Homo sapiens: one gene and its partner. The protein of the gene in region 1 interacts with the protein of each later gene in a pairwise test. Each region holds a gene or a part of one and is shown in the gene's direction. Other genes may lie near its edges.

Evidence for each region.
Region 2: the proteins of SLC12A4 (region 1) and MB21D2 interact in binary tests that used the Homo sapiens proteins (3 or more experiments, as listed by UniProt).

The regions. Positions count from the first base shown.
Region 1 is NC_000016.10:67,951,098-67,959,132, reverse strand, and holds part of SLC12A4 (solute carrier family 12 member 4), read left to right. Parts: intron 1-1,088; coding exon 1,089-1,235; intron 1,236-1,336; coding exon 1,337-1,391; intron 1,392-4,359; coding exon 4,360-4,490; intron 4,491-6,707; coding exon 6,708-6,949; intron 6,950-7,095; coding exon 7,096-7,310; intron 7,311-7,828; coding exon 7,829-7,993; intron 7,994-8,035. UniProt on the Homo sapiens protein: Mediates electroneutral potassium-chloride cotransport when activated by cell swelling. May contribute to cell volume homeostasis in single cells. May be involved in the regulation of basolateral Cl(-) exit in NaCl absorbing epithelia.
Region 2 is NC_000003.12:192,795,804-192,803,380, reverse strand, and holds the end of MB21D2 (nucleotidyltransferase MB21D2), read left to right. Parts: intron 1-3,730; coding exon 3,731-4,995; 3' UTR 4,996-6,566; downstream 6,567-7,577. UniProt on the Homo sapiens protein: Probable nucleotidyltransferase that catalyzes the formation of cyclic dinucleotide second messenger in response to some unknown stimulus.

The DNA.
Region 1 (8,035 bases):
CCTGCCCTACAGCCTGAGCACTTTCTCTGTAGGATTTTCCCAACAGGATGTCCCAGGGGCTTCCAAAGCACCACTCACTGGGTTCAGAAGCACCTTTTGGGTACCTGCAGGGCCTGCTGGTGATAGAACCATAAACAAGCCAAGCCTGCCCTAATATAGTAACAAAATATACAAGCACATTCTGTTACCATGACCTGTAGTGACCACTGTGATAGGGAGTATCAGATGCCAAAGGAATGTGAGAGGGAGAACCAACTCCACCTGAGGCAACCTTCGGACATCTTCCCGAGAGAGGTAACAGTTTCACTGAAGAGTTTGCCAGGCCGTGAGGCAGGGCCGACTCTCCCAGGCAGAGTCCAGCACATTCTCAGGTTCGCAGAATCTGAGGGACCCATGTGGTCAGGGGCTGGAGCTAATAAGAGAGGTGATGGGACACATCTGGTGGCCCAAGCCAAGGAGTTGGACGGCACACTGGATTACAAGACAACAGAGGGTTTTCAGCATGGGTGATGAGATTAGACTTGCTTTCAGAGACCTACTATAGCAGCAGAGTGGGCTGGAGTGTGGAGAGGTTGACAGGCTCAGGAGGGTACCACCCAGGTGCCCCAGGTTCAAGGGACTAAGGCTGGGACAAGGCAGGCTGATCTCAGGGCAGCAGGGAGACAGACTGGGTAGGAGTTAGTGTCTACCGGGACTAGAGTTGGGGGTTGAGAGGGAGGGCCAGGGATGACTTCTGGGACTTTGGCTTGGGTGACTTAGGGCCTGCTGGGTGAGAAGGTGGAGATCTGAGACAAACCTCTCTTTCTAGAAGTTTAACAGAAGAGAGGAAGGGAAGGAGGCAGTACCTTGAGAGAGAGTTAAGGTTCCAAAGTTCAATGTGGGTTTTTAAAAAGAATCAGGTTTTACACCTTCCCAGACTCAACTGTCTTCCTATATGAAAGTCAATAGAGACATCCTAGCTGTCACCCCTACTCTCTGTGTTCCCTGGGGCCCCACTGGGGGAGGGGGCCTGCTGAGTGACTAGGGCTGACTCTCCATGGTGCATCCCTCTGATGCTCTACTCGCCCCCTCCCTTTGTGTTCGCATAGGCACCCAGCATGGGCACCCTCATGGGGGTGTACCTGCCCTGCCTGCAGAATATCTTTGGGGTTATCCTCTTCCTGCGGCTGACCTGGATGGTGGGCACAGCAGGTGTGCTACAGGCCCTCCTCATCGTGCTTATCTGCTGCTGTTGTGTGAGTGTCCTGGCGTGGGAGGGTTGGGCTGGGCATGGGCCACGGCTGCCCCCACAGAGCCCACCCAGCTGAGCCGCTCACCCAGGCCCTCCTTCCCACAGACCCTGCTGACGGCCATCTCCATGAGTGCCATCGCCACCAACGGTGTGGTTCCAGGTCAGTGAGCGCCACCCAAGGCCTGGTGGAAGAGAAAAGGACCCAGTATCTGCCTTGACCTACCTGGGAACCCCCATAGCACACCCCTGCCCCAAGCAGTTCTGTAGTGGGCTCCCAATCCCTGATGCCAGGACAGTGCCCACGTAGGAGCTTTCCTGCTTGACAGAGTTGGAGAGTGCCATTGTGGTTTTTGTTAATATAAAAGCAATACCAAAAAAGAAAAAAAAAGGGCAATGTATGTTTACTGTAAGAGGGTTTGAAAGTGCAAAAAAAGGCCAGGCGCGGTGGCTCATGCCTGTAATCCCAGCACTTTGGGAGGCCGAGGTGGGTGGATCACAAGGGCAGGAGATCGAGACCATCCTGGCCAACACGGTGAAACCCCATCTCTACTAGAAATACAAAAAATTAGCCGGGCGTGGTGGCGGGCGCCTGTAGTCCCAGCTACTCGGGAGGCTGAGGCAGGAGAATGGCGTGAACCTGGCAGGCAGAGCTTGCGGTGAGCCGAGATTGCACCACTGCACTCCAGCCTGGGCGACAGAGCGAGACTCCGTCGCAAAAAAAAAAAAAAAAAATTAGCCAGGCATGGTGGTGGGCACTTGTAATTCCAGCTACTTGGGAGGCTGAGGCAGAGAATAGCTTGAACCCAGGAGGCAGAGGTTGCAGTAGTGAGCCAAGATCATGCCACTGCACTCCAGCTTGGGTGACAGAGCAAGACTCCATCTCCAAAATAAATAAATAAATAATAAAAAAGTGCAGAAAGGTATAGAATGGAAAATTAAAAGCACCCATAATCCCACCATCCTGAAATCACTACTGTTCGCCTTTTGGTATATATAAGTCTTAGGGTCTTATGAAGTATTGCACACGCACACTCTATTTACATAAATTGTATATATATATATATATATGTGTGTGTGTGTTTGTGTGTATTTCCCAAAAGTATATGTGTGTATATATACATATGCATTTATGTGTATATGTTTACGTGTGTATGTGTGTGTGTATGTTTCCCAAGTGTTGAAAACAGTTTTTTGATTTTGGTTTTTTGGGTTTTTTTTGAGACAGAGTCTCTCTCTGTCACCCAGGCTGGAGTGCAGTGGCATGATCTCAGCTCACTGCAACCTCCATTTCCCAGGTTTAAGCAATTCTAAGTGATTCTCATGCCTCAGCCTCCTGAGTAGCTGGGATTACAGGCGACCACCACATTTTTGTATTTTTAGTAGAGACGAGGTTTCACTATGTTGGCCAGGATGGTTTCGAACTCTTGACCTTAACTGATCCACCCACCTCTGCCTCTCAAAGTGCTGGGATTACGGGTGTGAGCCACTGCACCCTGCCGAAAATGGTTTTTTGAAAACAGGATTCTCCATGGTACACCATAACCTAATTAATGTGATTATTCTCCTGCCTGTGGGTTCCACTTTTTCACCATTGTATACATTGTTGTCATGAACATCCTTGAACATGAATCTTTGTTCATGCCCCAGCAGTTCCCTTAGGAGAGGGTCCTGGAGGTGGATTACGGCATGAAAAAGATTGACTTTTCGTTTATTTATTTATTTATTTATTTTGAGACGGAGTGTGTCGCCCAGGCTGGAGTGCAGTGGCACGATCTCAGCTCACTGCAATCTCCACCTCCCAGGTTCAAGCGATTCTCCTGCCTCAGCCGCCCGAGTAGCTGGGATTACAGACATGCACCACCATGCTCAGCTAATTTTTGTATTTTTAGTAGAGATGGGGTTTCACCATGTTGGCTAGGCTGGTCTCAAACTCCTGACCTCAAGTCATCTGCCTGCCTCAGCCTCCCAAAGTGCTGGGATTACAGGCGTGAGCCACTGTGCCCAGCTGACATTTTTTTTTTTTTGAGACGGAGTCTCACTCTGTCGCCAGGCTAGAGTGAAGTGGCATGATCTCGGCTCACTGCACCCTCTGCCTCCCAGGTTCAAACGATTCTCCTGCCTCAGCCTCCTGAGTAGCTGGGACTACAGGTGCACACCGCCACGCCTAGCTAATTTTGTATTTTAGTAGAGACGGGGTTTCATCGTGTTGCCCAGGCTGGTCACGAACTCCTGAGCTCAGGCAGTCCACCCATCTCAGCCTCCCAAAATGCTGGGATTACAGATGTGGGCCACTGCACCCGGCCTTTTTTTAAAAATGTATATTTTTATCATTTCCTTTTTTTAGTAGAGACGGGGTCTCGCCATGTTGCCCAGACTGGTCTGGAACTCCTGAGCTCAAGCAATCCACTCACCCCAGCCTCCCAAAATGCTGGGCTTACAGGCATGAGCCACCACGCCCAGCCAAGATTGACTCTTTGAAAGAATTTCTTGATCCCTGTTCCCAGATTTTCACCAGAGACATTGTCTCAGCAGCAGATACAACCAGCAACATGAGATGACTCTTGTCCCCCTGTGCTTGTCACCCTGGGGCCTGGTCATGACTCTCTGAGTCTTTTAAGGGTGTTAGACTTTGATAGAAGCACAGATTCAGGGCAGGGAGCCGTGGACACTCACCTGGTGGCAGGCACTGTGCGGGGCCTTAGGGCCAAAAGGCTGGATGAGACAGTCCCTCCTCTGGTCTGGAGGAGTCAGACTAACAAAGGCACAGGCCTCAGGAGGGTGAGGTGGGCTGAGATAGGACACACCCAGCCAGAGGAGGCTGTGGGCTGTGCACAGGGCATTGGAGGATGGTGGCCAGTCAGCCACTGCTGCAGACTAGAGCTGCTCCCGCAAAGCAGTTATTTCCACGGGCCGTGCTGGACATTCGAGTCAGATGGGGATAGGATCGAATGTCAGCCTAGATGCTTACCCACCGTGCAGCCCTGGGTAGGTCTCCCAGCCCCTCTACTCATCCACAAACAGGAAAAGCAGTCCCTGTCCCTCTGGGTGGTTGTGCAGGCTTGTCACAGGGAGACCCCTTGAAGAAGAACCAGCCTTGACCTGTGCACACTTTCATTTCTCTGCTGTAGCTGGGGGCTCCTATTTCATGATCTCTCGTTCACTGGGGCCAGAATTTGGAGGTGCTGTGGGCCTGTGCTTCTACCTGGGAACAACATTCGCAGCAGCCATGTACATCCTGGGGGCCATCGAGATCTTGCTGGTGAGTCAGGCTGAGCCCTGGCCAACTCTGGCCATGTCCAAACAGTCCCTTTGGACTCCAAACAGAAGGCTCAGGCTGTTCATCCCCACATGTCTGGCCAAGGCCTGGGTATTATAAAGTAGGAAGCCTCTTCGAGAGACAAAGACCTTTACTCAGGCTGGTCTTCCTTTCACCTCCATGCCAGTTTGGGCCAGGCAAGGCAGAGGCCTGGCTGCCTTCACCTCGGCCCTGGATGTTCCATCCACCTGGGCACCATTGCAGCCATGGCAAGGGTTCCAGGAACTGTTGTATTCAGCTCAGTGACAGATCTTGGTGGTGATGTAGGCTTCCTTCTGGGCTTGTGTGAGCTCTGGCCAGCTCTGTGTCCTCCGGGGCTCTGTGCCAGGGCACTTCAGATCCACCTTCTCCTTGTCCTTCAATCAGGGTAAGCAGCCACAGAACCCTGCTGGAGGTCGGCGCTCCCTCCACGAGCCCCATGGGAGCTCTGTCAGCCTCAGCTTCTCATTCCCCAGTGAACTGCCGTACCAGTGGGAGAAGAGGCAAGGAGCTGCGGGAGGCATGGGGTGACAGGTGCCCGCCCCTGGGGATCCAGAGGGTAGGAGATACCTGGAGGGACTGCCTGGCTGTTCTTGTCTCCAGGTCCTCTACCTGCAGCAGGACCCTGCACCTGAATCTTCTGATTTGGGGGGGCTTTGGCTTGTTTTCATTTCTCATATCCCTTCTACATTCATTATGTGGGATTTGTCCCTTCTCCTGTTTATCTATTCAGCCATGTCATTATATCTGTATGGACTTCTGGATATTTACTTTATTCTTTGGGTTGTAATCCAATACTATCATTATTTATTTTCTTGCTCAAACTGTTCCACTTTGGCTATTTAACGATTCAGGTTGGCATCTATGTTTGGATCCTTTTTGTTTGCTTGTTTTTAAGTAACAGCTTTATTAACATATAATTTACATACCATGCAATTCCCATACCAATTTATATACCATTGAAAGTGTACAATTCAATGTTTTATAGTATATTCACAGAGTTGCGCAGTCAATTCTAGAACATTTTCATCATCCCAAGAACCCCCATTAGCAGTCACTCTCCATTCCCCGCCAGCCCTGGCAACCAGGAATCTGCTTTCTGCCTTGGGATTTGCCTATTCTGGGCATCTCATATAAACAGAATCATATAATATGTGACCTTTTGTGACTGGCTTCTTTTAGGTACTCTTATTTTTTATTTTTATTTATTTATTTGTTTTGAGATGCAGTCTCACTCTGTCGCCCAAGCTGGAGTGCAGTGGCATGATCACAGCTCACTGCAATTTCCGCCTCCTGGGTTCAAGTGATTCTCCTGCCTCAGCCTCCCGAGTAGCTGGGATTACAGGCTCATGCCACCACGCCCAGCTAATTTTTTGTATTTTAGTAGAGATGAGGTTTCACCAAGTTGCCTGGGGTTGTCTCGAACTCTTGAGCTCAGGCAGTCGGCCTCCCAGAGTGCTGGGATTATAGGCATGAGCCATTGCGCCCGGCCTATTCATTTATTTTTTTGAGACAAGGTCTCACTCTGTCACCCAGACTGGAGTGCCGTGGTGTGGTCTCTACTCACTGCAACCACCACCTCCGAGACTGAAGTGATTCTCCTGCCTCAGCCTCCCGAGTAGCTGGGATTACAGGCGTGTGCCACTACTACCAGTTTTTGCACCACTAATTTTTGTATTTTTAGTAGAGATGAGGTTTCACCATGTTGGCCAGGCTGGTCTCAAACTCCTGACCTCAAGTGATCCACCGCCTCAGCCTCCCAAAGTGCTGGGATTACAGGCGTGAGCCACGGCGCTGACCTATTTTTTATTTTTTTTTGAGACGGAGTCCCCCTCTGTCACCCAGGCTGGAGTGCAGTGGTGCGATCTCTGCTCACTGCAACCTCTGCTTCCTGGATTCAGGCGATCCTCCTGCCTCAGCCTCCAGTTGCTGGGATTACAGGCACGTGCCACCACGCCCGGCTAATTTTTAGTAGAGATGGCGTTTCCCCATGTTGGCCAGGCTAGTCATGATCTCCTGACCTCAAGTGATCCCCCACCTCAGCCTCCCAAAGTGCTGGGATTACAGGCGTGAGCCACTGCGCCCGGCCTCTTTTAGGTACTCGTAAAAAGAAAACCAAAACGACAAGTTTCACTTTCCAAATAAGAAATAAAACCCTCCTTATCCATCTTCTTGTTTCAGACCTACATTGCCCCACCAGCTGCCATTTTTTACCCATCGGGTGCTCATGACACGTCGAATGCCACTTTGAACAATATGCGTGTGTATGGGACCATTTTCCTGACCTTCATGACCCTGGTGGTGTTTGTGGGGGTCAAGTATGTGAACAAATTTGCCTCGCTCTTCCTGGCCTGTGTGATCATCTCCATCCTCTCCATCTATGCTGGGGGCATAAAGTCTATATTTGACCCTCCCGTGTTTCCGTAAGTAACCCAGGAATTTATCTGGGCATTGCATGGACATCCCTCCCATGTAGCCAGCCTTTGATGCCCCAGATCCCAGAGACTGCAGGGTGGGCACAGGCAGGGGCTTTGACCTGAGCAGGTGCCGGTGCTTCTGTCCCTCACAGGGTATGCATGCTGGGCAACAGGACCCTGTCCCGGGACCAGTTTGACATCTGTGCCAAGACAGCTGTAGTGGACAATGAGACAGTGGCCACCCAGCTATGGAGTTTCTTCTGCCACAGCCCCAACCTTACGACCGACTCCTGTGACCCCTACTTCATGCTCAACAATGTGACCGAGATCCCTGGCATCCCCGGGGCAGCTGCTGGTGTGCTCCAGGGTGGGTCCTCCCTCCCGTCGTCTTGCTCTTGAGCCCACAGGCTGAGCAGGGGCACAGAGCACAGAGCTGTCCTTGTGTGGCCAGCTTGGGAACGGGGGCAGGACTGGCCGCCTTCCCAGCCCCCCAGTGTCCTCCCAGCCTGGCTCCTGGCAGCCGAGTTTGGAGTGAGTGGAGCCTGTCTGGCCAGCGTCCAAGGCCTGCAGCAGCCTGTCTTCCCCAGCCACCAGCCCCTGACACTGCCTGGGGATGTTCCCACAGGATCCATAAAGGCCTCTGTGGAAGGCGGGCAGTGGCGGGCTCTGGGTGACGGTGGTTCAGCCACCTTTGTCTGTCGACTTCTAGCTGGGCAGCTCCTTCTCTGTGGTCAGGGTAGCCCTGTGGCTGACGCTGCAGTCATTGGGCTGAAGCTGTTCCCTGAGTCCCCAAAGTTGCCCTGCATCTGCGCCTCTGGCTAGGCTGCCCCAAACTACCTGGGGTAGTGGGGGGCAGCTGTGGTGGTGACACAGCTACCCCTGCAGAAAACCTGTGGAGCGCCTACCTGGAGAAGGGTGACATCGTGGAGAAGCATGGGCTGCCCTCCGCAGATGCCCCGAGCCTGAAGGAGAGCCTGCCTCTGTACGTGGTCGCTGACATCGCCACATCCTTCACCGTGCTGGTCGGCATCTTCTTCCCTTCTGTAACAGGTGAGCCCTGCCTGCCTACCCACCCAGCCCTGTCCCCAATCC
Region 2 (7,577 bases), on another chromosome or scaffold:
TTCTTCACTTTAAAAGGAATAAGAAGTGTTCAAAATTACCCTATCTCCTGAATATTAGAATTTAGCCAAATACTTGATGTTGACTCCTTTGAATAAAGGGTCAACATTTTAACGAGATGCATAAGCATCATTGAGAGGAAAGAGAACCTTTTATCATTGGCAGGAATTTTCTAGTGTGTATATTGACAAGTGAAAACAGGTTAAAACTTCTTAAATCCAGCAGAGGGCAGAAGGGAGTTTTAGCTATGGCTTACCCAAGACTCTCCAAACAAGATTGTAACAATCCAAGGCAAAATTCAGTGGCACTTTTGTAGACAAATTATCTCCAGGTTGTTAATGCACAAGTTACCCTGATTATATAGACGAGTCTTAGTTGGTGGGCTCAAAGCCAGTTTGCTTCTGTCCAGGACAAAAGCATATATAGGATTTTGAGTTAGTTACGCCTAAGAGGAGACAACAGTGTGTACTCAAATAACAATATCACTTTAATAGATTCAGATCTTATTTACTAACCACAACACAGCATTTCACAGTACTTCTCACGTATATTTATGGTATTCTGAATGGTAGAATGAAAGGATGTTTGAAATAATGAAGAGTAAACGATTTCATTATCAAATATATCTCACTGAAACTGACTGTTCCAACATGTGAGTTCATAAAATAATGAAAATGATTTTCACAACCTAATCTGGAATCTGAGAAATCAATTTTATCCTTTAAAGCAATAACCAAAACGTGGGATGGTAGTATTTCTTTACATGGCAAAGATGAGGTTAATATTAAAACATAATGACATTTGAGAAATGGATCTTTGTCTTGGCATTTATAAGAACTTTCAATCCGGATTAAGTTTGGCTTTAAAAAAGAAAACACTTTAAAAAGGAAAAACATATTTTCCATGCTGAAGACGGTTTTTGTTTGGGTAGTAGGTAGTATCTTCTGTTTTGCTTGGATAGTATTTAGTGTAGTATGTTGGGTTTCTCAGGACGCAGCCTCTGAAATGGAGTTAGGATGTTTATGAAGCAGCACCCTTGGGATCTACACCTGTCGAAGTGGGGAAGGAAGCAGGTTCAAGTAGGAGAAGCTGAGCTTCCCTGCAGGCGCATCATTCGCCACAGCCAACCCCACTGGGAACTCAGAGTTTGAGTGGCCCTTCAGAGTATCCTGAGCTGGGACACTCCCACACCGATCAGTTATTGGATGTGCACCTGCAACCCCCATCCCAGCCACAGGACCTGACCTGGCTAAGACAGCCCTTTGCAGCTGAGACAATCCTTAAGGGCTAGCATTTAAGCAGCTGGAAGTCCTTTATTGAAGAGGGACCTGGATGCCGTATCACAGTGCAGATAGTGTGAGAAACAGCCAAGAAGTCAGGTTTGTTGGATGTTCTTTCTGATGAATTGTTGACACTATAATGTTGGCTAACTTACGGTTTTAAAAAGAAAATGATAACTTGCCATATTTCTGTGTGTAAAGAATTGTACTAAATAAAAGACTTTTTCATGGTTAATGTGGTTTGGAAAATAGGATTTTAAAGAGCATATTTTAATAAATGAGCGTTAAATTTTAAAGTATAATTGTCTTAGTTCATTCAGGCTGTTATGTCAAAGTACCTAAACTGAGTAGCTTATAAACAGCAGGGATTTATTTCTCACCATTCTGGATGTCAAGAAAGCCAAGATCAAGGTGCCTGCAGATTCATTGTCTGGTGAGGGACAGCTTCCTGGTTCATAGATGGCTGTCTTCTCACTGTGTCCTCACATGGCAGAAGGGGTAAAGAAGCGCTCTGAGGTTTCTTTTATAAGGGTACCAATCCCACTCATGAGGGTTCCACTCTCACGCCTGATCACCTACCACAGGCCCCAGCTCCTAATACTATCACATTGAAAGTTGGGATTTCAACATGTGAGTGGGAGTCACGAACGTTCAGAGTATAACAATAATAGTAAGAAAACACAGGCATATGGTTTATTTGATTTGGGATTGTCCTATGAAGAGCAAACTATGAATTATAATGAATAATGGAATATTATAATACTTTGTGGTAGGTCTTGATCTTTGGGGAAACACTGTTAAATAAATCACAGGATGACGCTGGTAGTTTGTCAGAGAATCAAGCGTAAGCAAGTATATAATGAAGGAGGGAAAATGTATATGTTGTTTATGGAACAGTCATTTAAGTCTAGCCTTTAAGAATTTATGTTAATTCCATCTATTAATGCTATCTACCTATTAATTTCATGCATTTTTTCCCTTATCATTTAGTCATAGCTTGAATTATGTTCCTACTGCATGCACGGAGTCTTCTATACCTGCTTAATACATGAGACATGGTTCTCAAAAGGACCCACAATCTCTTAAAAAATCACATTTGTTAATATCATCGCCAATTTAATCAGAAACGTATACAATTCGAGAAGATGTCACGCTCATGGTGCGGAGTTTTCTAAATTTAATTTTCCCTTAGAAATTTCAGCTTTATCATTGGCAATAAATATTGTCAGTAGTTTCCTTGAAGCCAGGCTCATTTTGTTCATTTCTGAAGAAAATGTCTACCAAATACCCAAATCTAAATAGCCATAGTTTTCTGTTGTTCTTTAAAGTAAAAATGGCGTTCCATGAACAAAGAGGCTAGTTCAGCTCACAACTCAGTTACGTGAGTGCTTTTCCTGAAGACAGATTTCCTATTTCAGTATGAGGAAGACGGGTTTTATGGTTATTTCCATTTCATCACACAGACTATTAGGAAGATAGTCTTTCTAATGGCTCAGAGGTTGAGATTCAATAAAATAACTTATTTTTCTTCTCCATCAAGGATTTTCTTAAGTAAAACTGGGTTTTTTAAAAAAAAATTGCTAATGCATGTCAGTGGTAAAGAACCTACTGACTGCTAGTACAGTTTGGCATCAGTGTCTTTGCTGCTAAGGCACTGGCAATATTATCCTCCCTTGTTTCTGTGCCATTAGTACAATGGCAACACAGTAAAAAAGTCAGACAAGACTGGGCGTGGTAGCTCATGCCTGTAATCCCAGCACTTGGGGGAAGCCGAGGTAGGAGAATTGCTTGAGGCCAGGAATTTTAGACCAGCCTGGGCAACATAGCAAGACCCTGTCTCTTAAAAAAAAAGTCAAACAGTGTGTTAGTATTATTATAAAGAGAGTTATGAACTCATTACCCCTGAAAGTGTCTCCAGCCCACACTGAGAACCGCTGGTACAAAGAAGAGTGTAAGCGCAAAGAGCCTGGGGAAAGAAAACCGCTTAGGCAATAGATAAAAAAGGCCGAACTTCATATGATGGCAGGAGAGATGGAGAACAGGGAAGGAAGTGAGAAACCCTGGCAGAGGTTCCATGGAAAAGATTTGGCAGTAGAAGGGCAGCAAAGAGTTGAAATGTACTGAGGTTTTCAGTCTGCATAACTGAGTGGATGGCAATTCCATTAACTGAGATGATGACTGGGGGAAGAGGGGCCCTGTTTTATTATTGAAAACGATACTGCTTTTCACACTGAGAGAGAAAAATCTATCATAATTCTTGCATTTGGAAAAGGGTGGATTCTAGCACTAGTGAGAAAGTACTGTTGGCCAGGTCTCTGCAGCAGCCTGAGATTTGATTTAGTACTGATAATGAGTTTTGGTTCTTGGAACATCAGAGCATTCTGTTTCATGCATAAGACTCTTATGTCTGTGTTTCCTGTAATAGTGTTGTTTTTTTCTTCTTTATTTCCAGGAATGGTGCAAAAGCTGGACCAAAAGCTTCCAGTGGCTAATGAATACCTGTTGCTCTCTGGAGGTGTCCGGGAAGGCGTGGTGGACCTGGACTTAGATGAGCTTAATGTCTATGCCCGGGGTACTGACTATGATATGGACTTTACCCTCTTGGTGCCAGCCCTCAAGCTGCATGACCGTAATCAGCCTGTGACACTCGACATGCGCCACTCAGCCTTGTGCCACTCTTGGCTGAGCCTTCGGCTCTTTGATGAGGGGACAATCAGTAAATGGAAAGACTGCTGCACCATTGTAGATCACATCAATGGTGCCACCAACTACTTCTTCTCACCTACCAAAGTGGCTGACTGGTTCTATGACTCTATCAGCATTGTCCTATCAGAAATACAGAAGAAACCCCAGCGAGGGATGCCAAAGGTAGAAAAGGTGGAAAAAAATGGGACCATCATCTCCATCATTCTGGGTGTAGGGAGTAGTCGCATGTTGTATGATATTGTCCCTGTGGTATCTTTCAAAGGTTGGCCTGCAGTGGCCCAGAGCTGGCTCATGGAGAACCACTTTTGGGATGGGAAGATTACTGAGGAAGAGGTCATCAGTGGGTTTTACTTGGTGCCTGCTTGCTCCTACAAGGGTAAGAAGGACAATGAATGGCGGCTGTCCTTTGCCAGGAGCGAGGTGCAGTTGAAGAAGTGCATCTCCAGCAGCCTCATGCAGGCCTATCAGGCCTGCAAAGCCATCATCATTAAACTGCTGTCCCGGCCCAAGGCTATTAGCCCCTATCACCTGCGGAGCATGATGCTCTGGGCCTGCGACAGACTTCCTGCCAACTACTTGGCTCAAGAAGACTATGCAGCCCACTTTTTGCTGGGCCTCATCGATGACCTGCAACACTGTCTGGTCAACAAGATGTGCCCCAATTATTTCATCCCTCAGTGCAACATGCTGGAACATCTGTCTGAGGAGACAGTCATGCTTCACGCCCGGAAGCTGTCCTCTGTGCGCTCAGACCCGGCAGAGCACTTGCGCACCGCCATTGAGCATGTCAAGGCAGCCAACCGGCTGACACTGGAGCTCCAGAGGCGAGGTAGCACCACCAGCATCCCCTCTCCACAGTCTGACGGAGGGGACCCCAACCAGCCTGATGACCGTTTGGCAAAAAAACTGCAGCAGCTAGTGACTGAGAACCCGGGAAAGTCAATCTCTGTCTTTATCAATCCTGACGATGTCACAAGGCCCCATTTCAGAATTGATGACAAATTTTTCTGAGTGTTAGCTGACTTTTTTTTTTCCTGATTCTTAAACTCTGATAATGTGTCGTGTGGTTTGTGATGCTATCTTTCTGTTTTTTACATATCCAGCCTAGATTGGATTTGTTAAGAACAAATTTTAAGTTTCCTGGTTCTGCAGGATGGTGCAGGCTCTGAAACAGTATATTACTATTTCATATTCTGCCTCTGATTTCGTTGTTTACTTTTTGTAGTTATTGTCATGCTCTTTAGTTTGTTGGAGTTTTTTTTCTTTTTAAGGAGATCTTAAGCCATAGATGAAAATGCCCATGAATCCTCTTGCTTTTTTCTGTTTCATACTTGGTGCAAATTTGTTCATGGGTATGGGGAAACAAATCTCTTTCTGATGCTTAACGATTCTATCCTATTATTTTTATTATTTTGTTTTTGTCTTTTTTCTTATGAGCTTTCACCACTACTGATATTTGAGAATCATATGAACCTGGGAACTACTTGGCATGTTAGCTGGATTTATTTATTTTGGCCAGTGACCAGAGTAGTTTCCCCCCTTTTCCACCAAACAATGTAAACTTTGAAAGTGATAATACTACAAATTGTGTTTTGGAGCAACTTCATTGAATGTAATTGTCCTCAAATCAGAGAACACTGGGTGGTTTGAAGGGTGTCTTTGACAGTTTTCCAAGCAGAATTAAGGTTTCCAAATGTTAATTTTAGCATATGTAATTATTTGAAGCCTTATTTAAATCCTATTAAAGAACATACCATTATAATTATTATTTGCACTAATCTTTGCCATTGTCAGAATTGCAAAGTGTGTTTCAATATAAATTAACAACCACTCTCGAAATTCTATCATTTTTTCATTTTGCCCATTTCTATCAGTGAAATGATTCTTTGCATTTGCTTAGTTCTCCTTCAGTTGTGGGGTCCTGCTTTGCCCTCTTTGATATTCCTGGTTCCTGTCTTACTGAGAGAAGTTGTTAAAGCTTTATACATGTTGACCCCATCTAAAGCTGGGGAAAATATACACTTGATGAAGTAGGTGTCTTTGTATTTATTTCTTTTGGGGTCATAGAGGTAAGCTTTTTTGTAAAATCTCTACTCTTCCTGAGAGTTTTGAGAAAAACTGGCAGGAAGAACTTATAATCCCCAAATAGAAGATACCACGTCTGTTCAAAAGCAGGTATTGCTATAGAGCAGCACCCAGGAAATATCTGTGGGTGGCAGCCTTGGTATAGAGGTGTCCTGTCTTCATGAGTGAAGTTACTTGCCTGATTAGGTGCTGGAAGGTATTGGCTCCCTGTTTTGGTGTGGACTCATGGCAAGCTGGTGTTTAAGAGGTCAGGAGGCCTGCTGATCTTTCAAAGGACACCCATGATGTCTACTCATAGAAAGGGCAAGTAACGTGTTCATTTTGGTCTTGAATGTCCAAACTCAAGGGTTGGATTTTGGCCAATTGAAATCAGACATATGCGATCTTGGGTTTTTGCATGGAAATTAATGTAATGCTTATAAATGAAAAATGAAAACATTTCAACCATCTAAGTCAAACACAAAAATAATAAAAAAAGAAACATACTGGCCTTGAAATTTTGTTGTTGTTTGTAATCTGGGAATTATTTTCTTATTAGTATTATATTAGTATATTTATATATTAGTATATTTTCTTATTAGTATTATACTAACAGCAATTTTCAATAAATACAGCCATGGGCTTGCTAGTGTCTTTCGGACCAGTTGTCCATATAGTGAACAACCAACATTCAGTCTTCCTCTTTCCCCAGTTTTACTACTAATGTCTATCCGCCACATCATCCTTGTCCTTCTCAGGAAATGATTTCATCCCTAGTGCTGAAAACGCGTCATAATTGGAAAAGCTGATCTGCACAAACCATCTCCCTGGCCACAACATTAACAAGCGACACAGAATGTAAGCCGCTCCAGTCAGGGACACGCTCAGCGTTCCAAACTGGAATGCTGGGACAGAAACATACACTCTCCCTGGATATGGAGGAGAAAGCATTTGGATTCTTTTGCTACTGACAACTATCACACGATCTTTATTTATTTGTGTATTTATTTTTAATACACTTTAAGTTCTGGGTTACATGTGCAGAACGTGCAGTTTTGTTACATAGGTATATACGTGCCCTGGGTGATGTGCTGCACTCATCAACCCGTCACTAATGCTATCCCTCCCCCAGCCCCCTACCCCCCGACAGGCCCCGATGCGTGATGCTCCCCTCCCTGTGTCCGTGTGTTCTCATTGTTCAACTCCCACTTAAGAGTGAGAACATGTGGCGTTTGGTTTTCTGATCTTGTATCACGCAATCTTGACTAGAGCTAGCTTTAGGATGAAGCTGACGTTGGATGGCGTTATGGGAGCTGGGAATTAAAACATGACCTACCACACCCGCCACATCTGAGATCTCCACTAGACTTTCTAGTTAAATGAGTCAACACTTGGGTTATTTTAGCCAGTTTGAATTTGGCTCATCAAAATATTTAAACTGGTATACCAAACTACTTCAGTATATTTAAACTATTGCCGTTGTTGTGTGCCTCTTTTCTTTCTCGGGACAGATATCAGGGTTACCGTGT